Linked DNA regions of Homo sapiens: region 2 is linked to region 1. The links come from fine-mapping of genetic effects on gene expression. Tissue or cell type: whole blood. Region 1 holds a variant in brackets; the other region holds the start of a gene. All regions are shown on one strand. Distances are between the middles of the regions.

The links. PIP is the estimated chance that this variant, and not a neighbour inherited with it, causes the effect.
Region 2: it holds the start of ACER3, and the variant in region 1 is fine-mapped to the expression of ACER3 in whole blood (INTERVAL, PIP above 0.99).

The regions. Positions count from the first base shown.
Region 1 is chr11:76,976,265-76,984,366 of GRCh38, forward strand. It overlaps ACER3 (alkaline ceramidase 3), which reads left to right. Exons shown (of 11, transcript NM_018367.7): 4 at 25-77. All of the region lies in intron 1 of ACER3-AS1 (ACER antisense RNA 1), which reads right to left. Among named protein-coding and RNA genes, the nearest start is that of B3GNT6, 54 kb to the right of the region's middle. The variant T/TA (reference allele first, on the strand shown) is at 3,576.
Region 2 is chr11:76,857,569-76,865,670 of GRCh38, forward strand. ACER3 (alkaline ceramidase 3) reads left to right here and starts at 3,350. Exons shown (of 11, transcript NM_018367.7): 1 at 3,350-3,511. The coding sequence starts at 3,409. RefSeq lists silencers at 3,023-3,122, 3,163-3,422.

The sequences.
Region 1 (8,102 bases):
GTTATCTATCTTTGTTTCTTACAGCTATTGGATGAACTCCCAATGATATACAGCTGTTGCATATTTGTGTACTGCATGTAAGTACTTTTAAAATTTCATTGTTTGATTTATTTTTAAATTTATATTTACCTCATAGTGGATTAATATAACTGATACATTTATATTACTAGGATATTTTAATAATGTAGAAGATTATAAATTTTATGATATCAATATAGAGTATAATTTCTGGGAAGTTACAATAATGTTGTTTATTAACTTTTGTGATCTCAAAACCCTGTAGCCAATTTAGATAGGATCTAAATAGCTTAAATTCCATAATTTTCCTTTCCCAAGTGAATAATGTGTACAAATTTAGATAAAGATTTTCATATTGTGCCATAAAAGTTTTCAGATACAGTTTCTGTATTCTACAATATAGTTTAACAAGACGCTTACCAGAAAAGTGAGGTACACTTCTAGTTGTATAGTGATCGTGTCAACTTAATCTCCTTTTTGTTTGAAGTTATCTTTTAAATAGATACTTGCTTTCTTATTCTAAGGTAGACTAAATGCTCTCAAGAATATACTTATTTTGATTGGTTATTTACAAATATGGAAACAGCTTACAGGCCATTCCCAATCCAAAGTTCTCTTACTGTATTATATTCTGTTTACTTTATTATCAAGTTAATTTGCATTTCCTGAATGTCAAGGAAAAAATCAATCTTGAAAGATAAAAATGATTATGATAGTAACATTAATAAATGCTAATATGTAACTGCTTTGTACTGTGCTAGGCAGTGTACAATGCCATCTCTAATTCTCAACAACTATGCAAGATAAATGGGTATTGGCCCCATTTTATAGACAAGGAAGTAAAGCACAGAGAGATGTAGTAACTTGTCTATGGACAAAAACAGAACTTGATTTAAAAGCATACTGGCCAGGCCATTGTCCAGGTAAACAGTCTCTAAGGAACACTGAAATATCCCTGGAAATATATCATGATGGAGAAAATTACAATGATCACAATTCCTCTCAAGGAGAGGTTGGAAGAACACTTTGATAGGCTGCCTGGGTATGTGGTAGAAGTGTAGAAGTGAGACCCTTCCTGTACTGCATGATCAAATAATGTGCCTTCTAAGGAGGGTGGGTGAGGTTAGCTATAGGTCTTCTATTTGAGTAAGTTAGGGTATGCAGGTTTGGGCTCTAGCTAAGTCACTGGGAACATTAGAGGAAAGCCTCCTTCACCCATTACCCTGCAACATCAGCCTTCTCTAAATGTTGGACAAGTATGTTAAGAATATGTGTTTGGAGGGGCAAAAAAATTACTAGCTTATGTAGGGACCCACATGCCTGAGTCAGGCCCTAGTAACGAGGCTTTTGAGGGCAGCAGTAGCCCAGTTAGAGCAGCCACTGCAAAGATGCTGGCTGCAGCAGGGGAGGCAGTGCTGGTGGGGGCCGGGAACAGGTGGGAACCCCGTCCCCTACTGAGTTGGTGGGGCAGGAGCCCCACACTCCCGGGCACAGCTGCAGATGCCCAGCCATGGCTCTGGACCTGGGCATCCCTGCACTCTTGGAGTTCCAGGAAACCCCTTGCCCCTGCAGGCTTGAAAGTGCCTGCTCCCACTGCCTGGCTTCTCTCCGCTCCCAGCTCCCACTCCAGGGCAGAGCAAAGCTGTGGCCGAGCCCGGGTGCTGCCACAACTTGGCCAGGTGTGCATGTGCTTGGGGTGGTGCTGACATGCCAGCCCCCTGCCACCTCCGCCCCCTCTGGACTTTAGGCACTGACAAGCATGGGAGGGAGGCCGAGGCGGGGACTGAGGGCAGCTTGGTGTGGGCCTGCAGGCACCCCTCGGCAAGAACAGCCTGGGCACCATGGGCCATACATTGATGGTGGCAGGAGGCAGACAGGTTCCTGGGCAGAAAGGGGCAGTCCCCGGTGAAGCTCCACCTTCAAGCCGGGGACAGCCTGAAGCCTGGGGGCCAGGCTGTCATTTCCGGGTGGAGTCTGTGGCCCAGAGTGAGAACTTACAGTGCTTTTTCCAAGCCCTCCCATGGCTGCCCATTGATCAATCAGCACTCACTTCCTCCCTCCCGAGCCCATAAAAACCCCAGACCCAGCCAGACTCACACAGATGACTGGAGGACCTACCTGCGAATAGGAGCTGCCCACTCTGGGTCTCCTCTCCACTGAGAGCTGGACATTCACTGGGATGACCTGCCTGCAGATAGGAGCCACCCACTTTGGGTCTCCCAAGAGCTGTTCTGTCACTCAATAAAGCTCCTTTCCACCTTGTTCACCCTCCAGTTGTCCGCATACCTCATTCTTCCTGGATGCAGGACAAGAACTTAGGACTTGCCAAATGGTGGGCTGAAAGAGATGTAACACAAACAGGGCTGAAACATATCCCTCTCCCCAGCTTGCCACATTGCAGGAGATAAGAAGGAGAGAAGAGCTGTGGCCCTTCAGGGAGCCCAGACCTAGGGGCTCCGCGAGCCAGGGCTGTGACACCCTTTTGGGGGCTTGGTGGTTTCTGGCATCTCCCAGTTTCCAGGCACCACTGCATTCCCCTTGTCCAGATGGGGGTGCCCACAGTGGAAGATGCTTACGGTGTATCTGATCAAACCGCAGGCTTACATGGAGCCAGTGCCTATGCTGGCTTCTGGAGCTGCCTGCCCTGCTGCAGTAGCCAGTGTGCCTGGCTGTGCACAGTGGCTAGACCCCAAGCTTGCTCATTAAACACTTCTCACTGCTCCATTCCTGGCTTCCCCTTGGCAGGCATGGGATCCAGGCTGGTAGCATGAGCCAAGTGCAGCCTGCCAGGCCGAGTGGGCAGAATGAGCCCAGTGGGCCAGAACAAAACTTGGGCAAAGGTGCCACCAGCCACAGAGGTTTCTGGCTAGAAAAGCAACACCCTAAGGATCCTGAGACACTTTTAAGTGGTGGAGCCACAATTCAAAGCAGTTCATATCTGACTTCTACTTCCTAATACCTCTCTCAAAGTTAATGGTACACACTAAAGTAATTGAAAGATTTTTTTCTTTTATTTTTAGTTAGCTATAACCAACTATATCACTGTTGGCTCTGACCTTTACTAAAACTGATCTTTATCCAGAAACAATAAAAGTAAGAATGCCCATCTAGCTGCTATGACCCATATGGTGTCAAGCCCTATTTCAAAGTTAGGTAAGAAGATATAGAACAGCAGCCTGGCCAACATGGTGAAAACCTGTCTCTGCTAAAAATACAAAAAATTAGCCAGGCGTGGTGATGTGTGCCTGTAGTCCCAGCTACTCGAGAGGCTAAGGTGGGAGAATCGCTTGAACCCAGGAGGCAGAAGCTGCAGTGAGCTGAGATGGCACCACTACACTCCAGCCTGGGTGACAGAGTGAGACCCTGTCCCCCCCAGAAAAAAAGATATAGAACGGGGATCAGAAAACTTTTTCTGTAAAGGGCCAGATGATAAATATTTTAGGCTTTGTAGGACAGGAGTCTCTGTTGCAGCTCTTCAACTCTGCTATTGTAGCTTGGAAGCTGCCACAGATAATATGTAAATAAATGAGTGTGACTATGTTCCAGTAACATTTTAT[T/TA]AAAAAAAAAACAGGTTTAGCTGGGCACAGTGCTCACAAATGTAATCCCAGCACTTTTGGAGGCCAAGGTGGGAGGATCGCTTGAGCCCAGGAGTTCAAGATAAGCCTGGGCAACATAGGGAGACCTTATCTCTACAAAAATTACAAAATTAGCCAGGCATGGTAGTGCATGCCTGTAATTTCAGCTACTTGGGAGGCTGAGGTGGGAGAATCACTTGGGCCCTGGAGGTTGAGGCTGCAGTGAACCATGATTGTGCCACTGCACTTCAGCCTGGGAAACAGAGGGAGACCCTGTCTCAAGAAAAACAAAAACCAATACCAAACTAACAAAAAAAAACAGGCTCAGGCCAAGAGATTGGCTCTTGAGCCATAGTTTGTCACCTTGGTCTAAAAAAATAAGGTAAACTCCTTTTAATAACATATTTTAAAAACTATTCTGATGTTTATATATCTTTAGGAGAAGATATTCTTGAGCTAGCAATTATGACTATACTGAAAAGAATCAGATAACCATCATATAATGGGTACAAAGAACTCTTAAGTATTAGTGCTAGGAGCTGGGCATAGTTGCTCACATCTGTAATACCAGCACTTTGGAAGGCCAAGGCAGGAGTATTACTTGAGCCCAGGAGTTCAAGACCAGCCTGGGCAGTATAGTGAGACCCTGTCACTACAAAAAAATTAAAAAATTAGCTTGCATGATGGTGCACACCTCTGTCCCAGCTACACAGGAGGCTAAGGCAGAAGGACTGCCTGAGCCCCAGGAGGTTGAGGTTGCAATGAGCCACGATTGTGCTGCTACTGCACTCTACCTAGGGGACAGAGCAAGACCCTGTCTCAAAAAAAAAAGAAAAAGAAAAATAGTTTTAGTGCTAGGGAACAGCAGATATTACTTAGAAGGATACTGATAATGTAGATCAATTTTCAGCTCTGATATTTAGTAACTGAATGAGCTTAAGTAAGTCAACCTTTGTTCCTTCGTTTGTAAAAGTGGAGATTATAGTACTTATAAATTTCCCATGAAGATTAAAATAAATGATTTGTTTATAAAATAAACTTATTGTATGCTATTCATGTATCATGCACTGTGATAGGCTCTAGGAACTGGGAAATTAAGTAAGAAATAGTCCTTTTACCTCAAGAAATTTGTAGTTTAGTAAAAGAAACAGAACCAGAAACAAGCAGCTTTCATGTGATGTGATTAATACTATACCTGAGACATACAAAGTTCAGTGGAGTAGAAAGGGATAGAGCTTGCCATTATATGAAAATGGAGCATGGTGTCCTGTCATAGTGAATTAAACATAAGTTTCATCATTGCTACCACCTCAGAGTATAAAAAAGAATATATAAAAAGAGCATGCAAAGCTTTTGTTTCTCAAAAACTATGTCTCTGGATTCTAATCTTTCCTCAGCAATCTTCTGCACTATCTGTTTATGATCATATTCCCCCATTCAGAAAGAGCCTGCTGTAGTACACTTTAAGTGACACTTAGAAGGAAATGAAAGGGGTGAAATAATTTTTAATCCACTGTATTGACACACAGTTTACATGGAATAAAATGCACCCAGTTTAAGTGTATGGTTTGATGAGTTTTGACAAATGTATACTCCTATTTACCCATTACCCTTATGGCAAGAAAGAGAAACAGAACATTTCTATCACATTAGAACATTCTTTTCTGACCCATTGCAGTTAATACTGACACCTACCCTGGCCTCCAGGCCACCACTGATCTACTTTCTATAATTATAGATTAGTTTGTCTGCTCTGGAATTTTATATAAAAGAAATTATACCATATGTACTCTTTTGTAACTGGATTCTTTTATTCAGTATAATATTTTTTGAGGGCACTAATTTGCCAATTACTTTTGATGAATATATTCATGTATGTTGTTACATATATCATTAGTAGTATTCCATTTTATACTGTTTACCAATGTTGAACATTAAGGTTATTGCCAGTTTGGGGCTACTATGAATAAAGGGACCATGGACATCTGTTAACAAGTCTTTGTATGGATATATGACTTCATTTCTCTTGGGTATATACCTAGAAGTGGAATTTCTATGTTGTATGGTAAGTATATGTTTTACTTTATAGGAAACTGCCAAACTGTTTTTCAATTTAGTTGCACCTTATTATTGTTCTACTGGCAATATATGAAACTTCCATTTGCTCCATATACTTGCCAAGACTTGGTATTATCAGTCTTTTTTATTTTAGTCATTCTAGTGAGTATGATATACTATCTCTGTGGTGTTTTAATTTGTATTTTCTTAGTGACTAATGATGTGCATCTTTTTTTATTCTAATTGTCCATTTGTATGTGTTATATTAAGAACTATCTATTCAATCTATTCAAACCTTTTTCCTTTTTTTTTTTTTTTTTGAGACAGAGTCTCGCTCTGTCGCCACTCTGGAGTGCAGTGGTGCGATCTCGGCTCACTGCAACCTCTGCCTCCCGGGTTCAAGTGATTCTCCTGCCTCAGCCTCCCAAGTAGCTGGGACTACAGGCACCCGCCACCACCTCCAGCTAATTTTTGTATTTTTAGTAGAGATGGGGTTTCACCATGTTGGCCAGGATGGTCTCGATCTCTTGACCTTGTGATCCGCCTGCCTTGGCCTCCCAAAGTGCTGGGATTACAGGCATGAGCCACTGTACCCAGCCCCCATTTTTATAAAATAGCTTTTTTTCTTTTTGAATTGTAAAAATTCTTTATCTATTTTGGGTTCAAGTCCTGTCAGATATTTGTATTTTAAATATTTTTCCAGTCTGTGAATTGTCTTTTCATTTAATGTCTCTTGAAGAACAGAAGTTTTAAATTGTTATAAAATCCAATTTATTTTTTAAATGTTCATGAATAGTGTTTTTGTGTCATAAGAGATCTTTGCCTTCCCAGGATCAAAAATATTTTGTTTGTTTATTTTTTCTAGAAGTCTTATAACTTTATTTTACATTTAGGTCCATGATCTATTTTGAGTTAGTTTTGTCAAAGATCATGTTTTCCTTACCAGTATCTAGTTGTTCCAGAACCATCTTTTGAGATTATTCTTTCTGCATTAAATTATCTTGACTTTTTTCTCAATTCTGTTTTATTGATCACTGCGTGTATCCTCATACTGTCTAGTTACTGTAGCTTTATTGTAAATCTTGAAGTCAGTTAGAATAAGTCCTTCACTTTTGTTCTTTTTCAGTATAGCTTTGGAAATTTTAGTTCCTTTGCATTTCCACATAAATTTTAGAGTCAGCTTGTCAATTTTTACAAAATAGCCTGCTGGAAGATTGACTGTAATTTCTTCGACTCTATAGACCAGTTTGAGGAAAGTTAATATCTTAACATTACTAAGTCTCCCAAACCATGAATGTGGTTCTTTAATTTATCCAAGTGACTTTTTGTGATTTTAAGTGAATTGATCTTTGTTAAATTTAGCCCTATGTTTTTCATGGTTAGGATGCTATTTTCAATAGTATTGCTTTTTTTTCTTTTTTGACATGGGGTCTGGCTCTCACCCAGGCTGGAGGGCATTGGCACGATCTTGGCTCACTGCAATCTCCTCATCCCAGGCTCAAGCCATCCTCCTACTTAGCCTCTCAAGTAGCTGCGACTACAAGTGCGCTCCACCATGCCCAGCTAATTTTTGAATTTTTGTAGAGACGAGATTTTGCCATGTTGCCCAAGCTGGTCTCGAACTCCTGACCTCAAGCAATCTTCCTGCCTCAGCCTCCCAAAGTGCTGGAATTACAGGCGTAAGCCACTGCACTTGACCACAGTATTGCTTTTTAAAAGCTTTATATTCCAATTGTTCATAGCCAGCATTTAGAAATATAAGTGATTTTTGTATATTGACCTTTTATCTTATCACTTTGATAACTTATTCATTTTTCTGTTGATTCCTTAGGATATTCTTTGAACATATCAAATATGTGAAGCAGTCTAGACCTCTAATGATTTTTTTTTTTTTTGAGACAGTCTCACACTGTCGCCCAGGCTGGAGTGCAATGGCGCAATCTTGGCTCACTGCAACCTCTGCCTCCCGGATTCACGCGATTCTCCTGCCTCAGCCTCCCGAGTAGCTGGGATTACAGGCATACACCTGCAACGACTAATTTTTTTGTATTTTTAGTAGAGATGGGGTTTCACTGTGTTGGCCAGACTGGTCTCGAACTCCTGACCTTGTGATCTACCCACCTCGGCCTCCCAAAGTGCTGGGATTACAGGCGTGAGCCACCGCACCTGGGCTCTAATGATTTTTAAATCTGTCTTGCCTTCTGTGTGCTTGTTCATTTGTGAAACATGTACTGGAAAACCTCCTTTATTTTAGGCATGATCCTAGGCTCTGTAGATACAGAATCAGGAACTCATTGTCTGAGGAAGGGGACAGATAAGAAAGTGACTATATGTAATAAAGTGAAATAACCATGGTAATAAATACAAGCCAGGCCTCCTAAAGACCTTTGGTTTCTTAACAGATAACTTGCTTTTGAATTTGGAATAATAGAGTTTAAAAGTAAAAACTAA
Region 2 (8,102 bases), 120 kb before region 1:
TTTTATATAAGAAACCATTGCCTACCCAAGGTTACAAATATTTATTTTTATGTAAACTTCTAAGAATTGTATAGTTTTGGCTCTTACATTTAGGTCTATGATCTATTTTGAGTTGAATTTTGTTTATTGTAACAGGAAGCATTCTAATTTCATTCTTTTGCATGTGGATATCCAGTTGTCCCAGCACCATTTGTTGAAAGACTATTCAATCCCTATTGAATTGTCTTGGCATCCTTGTTAAAAATCAATTGACCATAAATGTAAGGGTTTATTGCTGGACTCTCAATTCGATTCCTTTGATCTACATGTCTATCTTCATGCCAGTACTGCACTGTCTTCATTACTATAGTTTTACAGTAAGTGTTGAAATCAGGAAGTATAAGTCCTCCAGCTTTGTTCTTCTTTTTTGAGATAGTTTTGACTTGTCTGGGTCCCTTACATTTCCAGGCATTGCTTTTATGCTCAAGGGGGGAAATTTTTTAGAAAAAAAGAAAAAGGAAGGTAGATATTGCTGAAGGAACTGTGAAATTCATTTTGTGTTTTCTGAGTGAAACTTCTGCAATGCACCTTTTCTCTCGGATGGGGGAATTTCTCTCTCCTAAAATCCGTCCTGGTCACGGTAGATTTCCTTTTTCACTATTGAGGAACATTGTGCAGAGTATTGACTCAGCCAAGGCCTCATCCTGCCTTGAGTCACTTGGCTGGGTCAGGGGTTATTTTCACATAGGGGGTTCCACAACACCCTAATTTTTTTTTTACTCCTAGCTAAGAATGATCATACTCTATTGTTGTGGTCTCTGCACTGTTCTGATTGCACACCTCATCGGCAAATCACTTTTGCGTATGAGTTTTTGCATATTCATTTTGAGCATATAAATATATAAATATTTCATTCATTTATAAATTATATATGCTCATGATTATTACATAAACACATAAACAAAACGGAAGTTTTAGAATATGAGATAAAGTGACTAGAAATAGATGTTTCCCCACACCTCAATGGCTTTTATCTCTCTGGAGACGGCCTTCTTGGATCTTTCATGTTTACCTCTGTGTGGTCCTAGCACCCAGGCAGCCAAACAGGGCCTGGTATATAGTAGAAGCTCAATGACATTCAAAATAAAAATTTCAGGCCAGGCAGGGTGTAACTCAGGCCTGTAATCCCAGGACTTTCGGAGGCCAAGGAGGGTGGATCACTCAAGGTCAGGAGTTCAAGACTGGCCTGGCCAACATGGTGAAATCTCGTCTCTATTAAAAATACAAAAATTAGCCAGGTGTGGTGGCAGCCTCCTGTAATCCCAGCTATGGGGATGAGGGGGTACTGAGGCACGATTCCCGGAAGGCAGAAGTTGCAGCGAGCCAAGATGGCACCACTGCACTCCAGCCTGGGCGACAGATCGAGATTCTGTCTCAAAAAAGAAAAATTTCAGAGAGGCTACTATTCGTATTAAAATACACTGCTTCCGGCCGGGTGCGATGGCTCACGCCTGTAATCCCAGCACTTTGGGAGGCCGAGGCGGGTGAATCACGAGGTCAAGAGATCGAGGCCAGCCTGGCCAACAAGGTGAAACCCTGTCTCTACTAAAAATACAAAAATTAGCTGGGCGTGGTGGTGCACACCTGTAGTCCCAGCTACTCTGGAGGCTGAGACAGGAGAATCGCTTAAACCCAGGGGGCGGAAGTTGCGGTGAGCTGAGATCATGCCAGTGCATTCCAGCCTGGCCGACAGAGCAAGACTGTCTCAAAAAAAAAAAAAAAAAAAAAAAAAGATACACTGCTTCCCTAGGTTTTGCACCTAGCAAATAAAAGTTCTGCATCTATTTCCTGCTAATTGGCTATGGTTATTTTGTAGAAAGGCTGTGGGCTCTTCATCTCTCCTTGTCCTCTCTTTTACCTTTGACTTGCACCACATCTGACTTATTTATTTAGAAAATAGCAGTTGTATCATCCTTCATTTTTACTCTTCATTTCTTACTGTGTATTCAGGCAGAGTCCTAATACTAAGACCATAAAGAAGGGAAAGCAAGGTCTCTGATCAGGATGTAGCACAGTAGGATGTGAACAAAGGGCAAGGAAGCTCTAGGGTGTAAACATCTGGGATGGCTTCAGAGAGCTGGATTTTAAAAGAAGAGTGGGGAGTTGGTCAAACGGAGAAGAGAGTTAGGCTGTCCCAGTTGAACTGTGGGAGCAAAGGCAGGTGACCCAGCGCATTCTAGGAGAGGGGAAAGTTTGAGTTTGGTGTAGCTGAACACTAGGGGCAAGGGTGGTTGCATCTGTTTTAGGAAGAGCTCTCTGGCAGACCTGTGGAGTACTAGACTTTTTATTTATTTATTTATTTATTTATTTATTTATTTATTTAGAGACAGGGTCTCGCTCTGTTCTCCCAGGCTGGATTGGCACAGTCTCAGCTCACTGCATGCAATCTCCACCGCGGGGGCTCAAGTGATCCTCCCACCTCAGCTTCTCAAGTAGCTGGGACCACACGTCTGAGCCACCGCGCCCAGCTAATTTTTGTATTTTTCGTAGACACGGGGTTTTGCCGTCTACGATACTCCCAGACGGGGGCTGGGAGTATTAGACTTGAAGTTGGAAGTAGGGGTAGGCTGTTGGTTGCCTGAAGAGCAGGGCACAATTATAGTTAGAACGTGGAAACCTCTGTGCTTGGAGGCCCAAACGAAGCAGGGAAACTTTGCTTTAGTGCTCTAGCTAGCAGCATTCTTTTTTTTTAGGATCTCAGAACCTACTTTTTTTTTTTCGGTCCTGGGTTGTTCACCCTTTCCCTTTGTACCGAAGAGACACTTACACCTTTATCAGAAAATCACGGTTTATTTCCTGAGAATCACGGGGATTGGTTGGGGGTACTCTGTTTTGGGGCTCCATTTGAGGCCTGTGGCTCAATGGAAGACATAGAGGCGCTTCGCCGCACAGGTTTAATCAAGCAAGGGCTTGATAGAAGTATTCATCCCACCCCCGCCCCGATTAAATCAAACCACACGCACACAAATAGAGGCTCTGGCACATCCTGACAGAATATAGCCTCTGGGATGTCAGGAACCCCCAACCTACGGCCATTGGCGTGTCTGCACCGGCCAGGAAGCCCAGGCCCCCGGCTCCTTCCTGGATCACGCCCCTGCCCCGCCCAAGGGTGAAGAGGGGCGGGGCCAGCCGGCGCCCTCCGAGTGGGCCTTACACCAGGTCGGGCCTGGCCCGGCCCCGCGGCCCAGCGGCGCCGGTGGGCGGGGCCTCCGTCAGGGCAGTGTCAGTAACGGCGCCAGGCCCCGCCCCTCGGGGAGGCAGGGCCGGGCGGGGCGCGAGCGAGCGCGCGGGCTGGGCCGGAGCCGGCCTGGTCGCCAGCCTAACCCGGCACAGTGAGCGGAGCGCCTGGGCGGCGGCGGCGGCGGCGTGATGGCTCCGGCCGCGGACCGAGAGGGCTACTGGGGCCCCACGACCTCCACGCTGGACTGGTGCGAGGAGAACTACTCCGTGACCTGGTACATCGCCGAGTTCTGTGAGTGTGGCCTGAGGAGGGGAGTGGGGGCGAGAGGGCACCGGGCTGAGGAGACGCCGTGTGAGGAAGGCAAAGAGCGAACCTGGCCGCGAAGGGAGGTGCCAGGCCTGGCCCCGGGAGCTGGAATGCGGCGCCCTGGGCCAGCGGGAGGCTGAGAGGAGCGGGCCGGGAGTCCAGTGTGTAGAGGGAGGAGTACCGGGGTCTGGGAGGGAGGAAGGGGGCCTGAGGATTGGGGGGGCAGAAGAGCAGTGGGAAGTGGGGAGCCCCTGCTGGACCTAAGGGGGAAAGCCTGAAGAGCCGGGTTGGGAATGGGAATTCCTGCCCGAGAGCGGAGTGGGGCCAGGCTGGGAGAGTGGAGGACCCTGCCCCTTGGAATGAGGGCCCAGGACACCTGCTCTGCTGTTGCCACCACCAGAAGGGTACAGTTCCTAGCTTCGTCTTTCCCCCAATCCGTGAGAATTCTACCGTCTTTCCCTTCCCTTTTCACTGGAATATTAGACCTCCTTGCTCACCTCCAGGGAACAGTTTCACTAGTCTGAGATCTGAACCATCCCACCCCTATCCCCCAGGATGTCTTCAAGTACCAGAGGTCATCTGCTCTCTGAGTATGATTATTCAACTGTCATCTTGCACCAGGAGTCGAAGGCATCTTGCACCTAGCCTGTACCTTCTGCCCCTGCCAGGCTCCCAAGAGCACAGAGGACCAAGTCCCTGCTCCATTCTGTCCTATCCAACTATCTAGGAGTTAGGGGTCATCTGAGGACACTACTTCCACCGACTGCACCTTCTGAGGATTTAAGCATTCTTCTTTAGCGGCTGCTCTGTCAGGCACTGCTGGTCAGGTTGGGCTTGTTCTGTGTGCCTATGTGGGTGTCTGTCTGTTTTCCTAGACGATTTTTCCTGCCAGGCTAGGAGAAATCTGCCACTTCTTTTTCTATCATTTAATCAGGTTTTGAGAGCACAATATTTGATCCTTCTTTTAGGTACCTGCTTCTGGCAAAGTGCAAAGACTATCCTTTGGCTAATGATTACTGCCTTCTTTTAGTTGGATCTACTTCTCAGGACGTGAAGTGAAACTCTTCTTAGCTAACCTTCTCATTGTTGAGTCCTGTTCTCAGGCATCTGTGCATGGCTTTGTAGGAAAGAGGCAAGCATATCATGACAAATGGTCCCACTTTATTCTGTTCTGGTAATTGGCTAAGTTTCAAAAAAAAAAAAAAAGAACACTTTTTGCAGTTTTCAGGACTTTAGTACTATTCTCTTATGACCATGATTTAGGCTAAGAGTCACTTTTCTTCAACTATTAAATTAATAATTTTTACATAATCATGGAGAAATATTGGCAAAGGGATCATTTGTAATACAATTACTTGGGAACCCACATGTTGGCAAAGGAAGCGCTTTACCAGTTTGTTGTTAGATCACTTTGGCAAGCCCATGCCTGGTCCAGAGAACCATGACCACGAGGAAAGAGATGTAAAACCATGCACTCTGCGCTGGAAATGTGTAACATGGAAAAGAGGAATTCAAGAGTCTTCAAATATTGGATGGGCTATCATATAGAATAATTTTTTTTTAATTTATTTGGAATCTGGAATTAGGGCATATGGGCAGAAACTAACTGTAATGGGGAAAAGTTTGCTTCAATATAAGGAAAAACCTTCTCACCAATGATATGGGAAAGGTTGACTTGGGGGACAGAGGACTTTCTGTCACTGAAAGTGTTAAATCAGACATTGTTCAATGAACTCAATATTTTCGAAGGAAAAAATTATTTAATAGAGAAAAGGGGCTGGCCTTAGTTGCAGCTTTATGGGTCTATGTAGGTAATAATGACTCTTAGTTTAGAACCAAGAAAAAACTGGGCTGGGCATCGTGGCCCATGCCTGTAATCCCAGCACTTTGGGAGGCCAAGGCAGGAGGACTGCTTGAGGCCAGGAGTTTGAGTCCAGCCTGGGCAACATAGTGAGACCCTGTCTCCATAAAAAATAAAAAAAATTAGATATGCATGGTGGTTTGTGCCTGTAGTCCCAGCTACTTAGGAGACTGAGGTGGGAAGATCACTTGAGCCCAGGAGTTCAAGGTTGCTGTGAGCTGTAATTATGCCACTGCACTCCAGCCTGGGCAAGAGTTAGACCCTATTTCTACAAAAAAAATATAAAAAATGCAAAGAGAGAAAACTGGCGGTAAGTCATGTGGACTCTGAGAGAGCAAGATACTGTGTTCTGGCAGATAGCTCTGAGAAATGGGAAATGACATTTGTTCTCAATGTGCTCAGAAGAGGAAACTCTGAGCAGACTGCAGGGAGGGTTTTGACATAGGAATCAGAGGGGTTGCAAGAAGAGGATGAGTGAATGTTTGCAGCCCTTTGCGCATGCACCTTGGGAGAAAATCATCTGGAGGAAGTTGAGGTCAAGTCATCTTACCATAGCAAGTCATGAGTATCTACAGTAATATATCTTGGACTAAGATAATTTGATCTTTGAAAAATATGCTGATTAATAATAATATGTTTAAAATATGTGTTTAAAGCAAGTGCAATATTAACATCACGATAGTATTTACATTAACAATAGTATTGATGGTAATATTAAGGATAATGTAATAATAGCTATTATCTAAGTGGTCACTTGTACTACACTTTGCTAAGCACTTCATATATCTTATCTCTTTTGATCTTTACAGTAATTTCAAAAAGAAGGTATTATTATCCCCATTTCAAAGATAAGGAGATTGAAGTTCTAAGAAATAATTTACCTAAGATTACAGTAAGTGATGTAGAGATAGTGTTCACATTGAAGTCTGACTCTAAAGCTACTATCCATGTTACCTCTCCATCATTACTTCTATCACACATTCATTGTTTTGCCCCTATATTCAAGAAAGGAAGACAGATATGAAATACTATGCTATCACACAGGACAAATTGAACAACTATTCAGTTTACTCAACCATCTTTCAACTATCTTTCAGCATTAGAATATATGTATTTTAGGGAATAATGAAGTGTTTGGGGAATTGCATATTCAGATATGGCAGTAGTTCTCAGTCACTTTCAGCACCCGAAAACTGTCTTCCTAGCATCAGCCAAGATCAGTTTAAATTCCTTTTGTTTGAGCATATTGTAAAGACCAGAGGAAAAGGTCTCTCATTGTGAAATAATAAGCCCCTTGACCTGCCAGAAGTTAGAGGTACAGGCAGTCCTTGCTTTGCATCATAGTGTGGGACCACACAAATGACTGTGCAAGTTAAAACCAGGTAACACTATGTTAATAATCAATGGGAAAAGTTATGATTGTTCTGTGATCTTTAAAACTTTTTGTCAAACATTGTAAACTCTCTTACTGTTGGTTATGAATATGTAGGGAAATGAAAAAAGTAAGCATATTTATTTAGTATACTTTAAAACATTAAAAACATTGAGAAATAAACTATTTTGTTTATAAAAATCACTTATCAAGAGTAATTAAAACAGTGCTTGCCTTTTTGTCACATAACTCATAATATGGAATGGGTATTTTTTTTTTTTTTTTTTTTTGAGGTAGAGTCTCGCTCTGTTGCCTAGGCTGGAATGCAGTGTCGCGATCTCGGCTCACTGCAACCTCCACCCCCTGGGTTCAAGCAGTTCTCCTGCCTCAGCCTCCCAAGTAGCTGGGATTACAGGCGCATGCCACCACGCCTGGCTAATTTTTGTATTTTTAGTGGAGACGGGGTTTCACCATTTTGGCCAGGCTGGTCTCGAACTCCTGACCTCAAGTGATCCACCTGTTCAGCCTCCCAAAGTGCTGGGATTACAGGCGTGAACTTCCATGCCCAGTTGTCTTTTTTCTTTTAAATTAATTTTTTTTTTTTTTTTTTTTTAGCCAGCTACAGCTACACTAATGAGGGCCAACAGGTTTTTGGATTTTTCTTGAGACAAGGTCTCCCTCTGTTGCTTAGGCTGGAGTGCAGTGGCACAATCACAGCTCACTGCAGCCTCGACCTCCCAGGCTCAAGTGATCCTGCCACCTCAGTACCCCATAGCTGGGACTACAGGCGTGTGCCACCATGCCCAGCTAATTTTTTTTTTTTTTTTTTGGATTTTTAGTAGAGACAGGGTTTTGCCATGTTGCCCAAGCTGGTCTCAAACTCCTGAGCTCAAGCAGTCCTCCCACCTCAGCCTCCCAAAGTGTTGAGAATATAGGCATGAGCCACCATGCCCAGCCGGGATGAGTACTATCCCTTCATGAATTCTTTTCTAATTTGTATCAGCTTCCAAAATTTATCCTTTGCACTTTTAAGATTGTGAAATCTCTCCAAGAGTTCCTTTAATGCAAAGTTTTTTTTGTTAGCATAATTTCTCCTGGGACATCTTTATCCTTTTCACCACAACTACTTTATGCATTTACGTTGATAAGTTTGCCTTCTCTTTCTCTGAATTCCTCAGATTGCATTTTTTTTTTTTTTCCAGACGGAATCTCGCTCTGTCACCCAGGCTGGAGTGCAGTGGCGCAATCTTGGCTCACTGCAACCTCCAGCTCCTGGGTTCAAGCAATTCTCGTGCCTCAGCCACCCACATAACTGGGATTACAGGAGTGCACCACCATGCCCA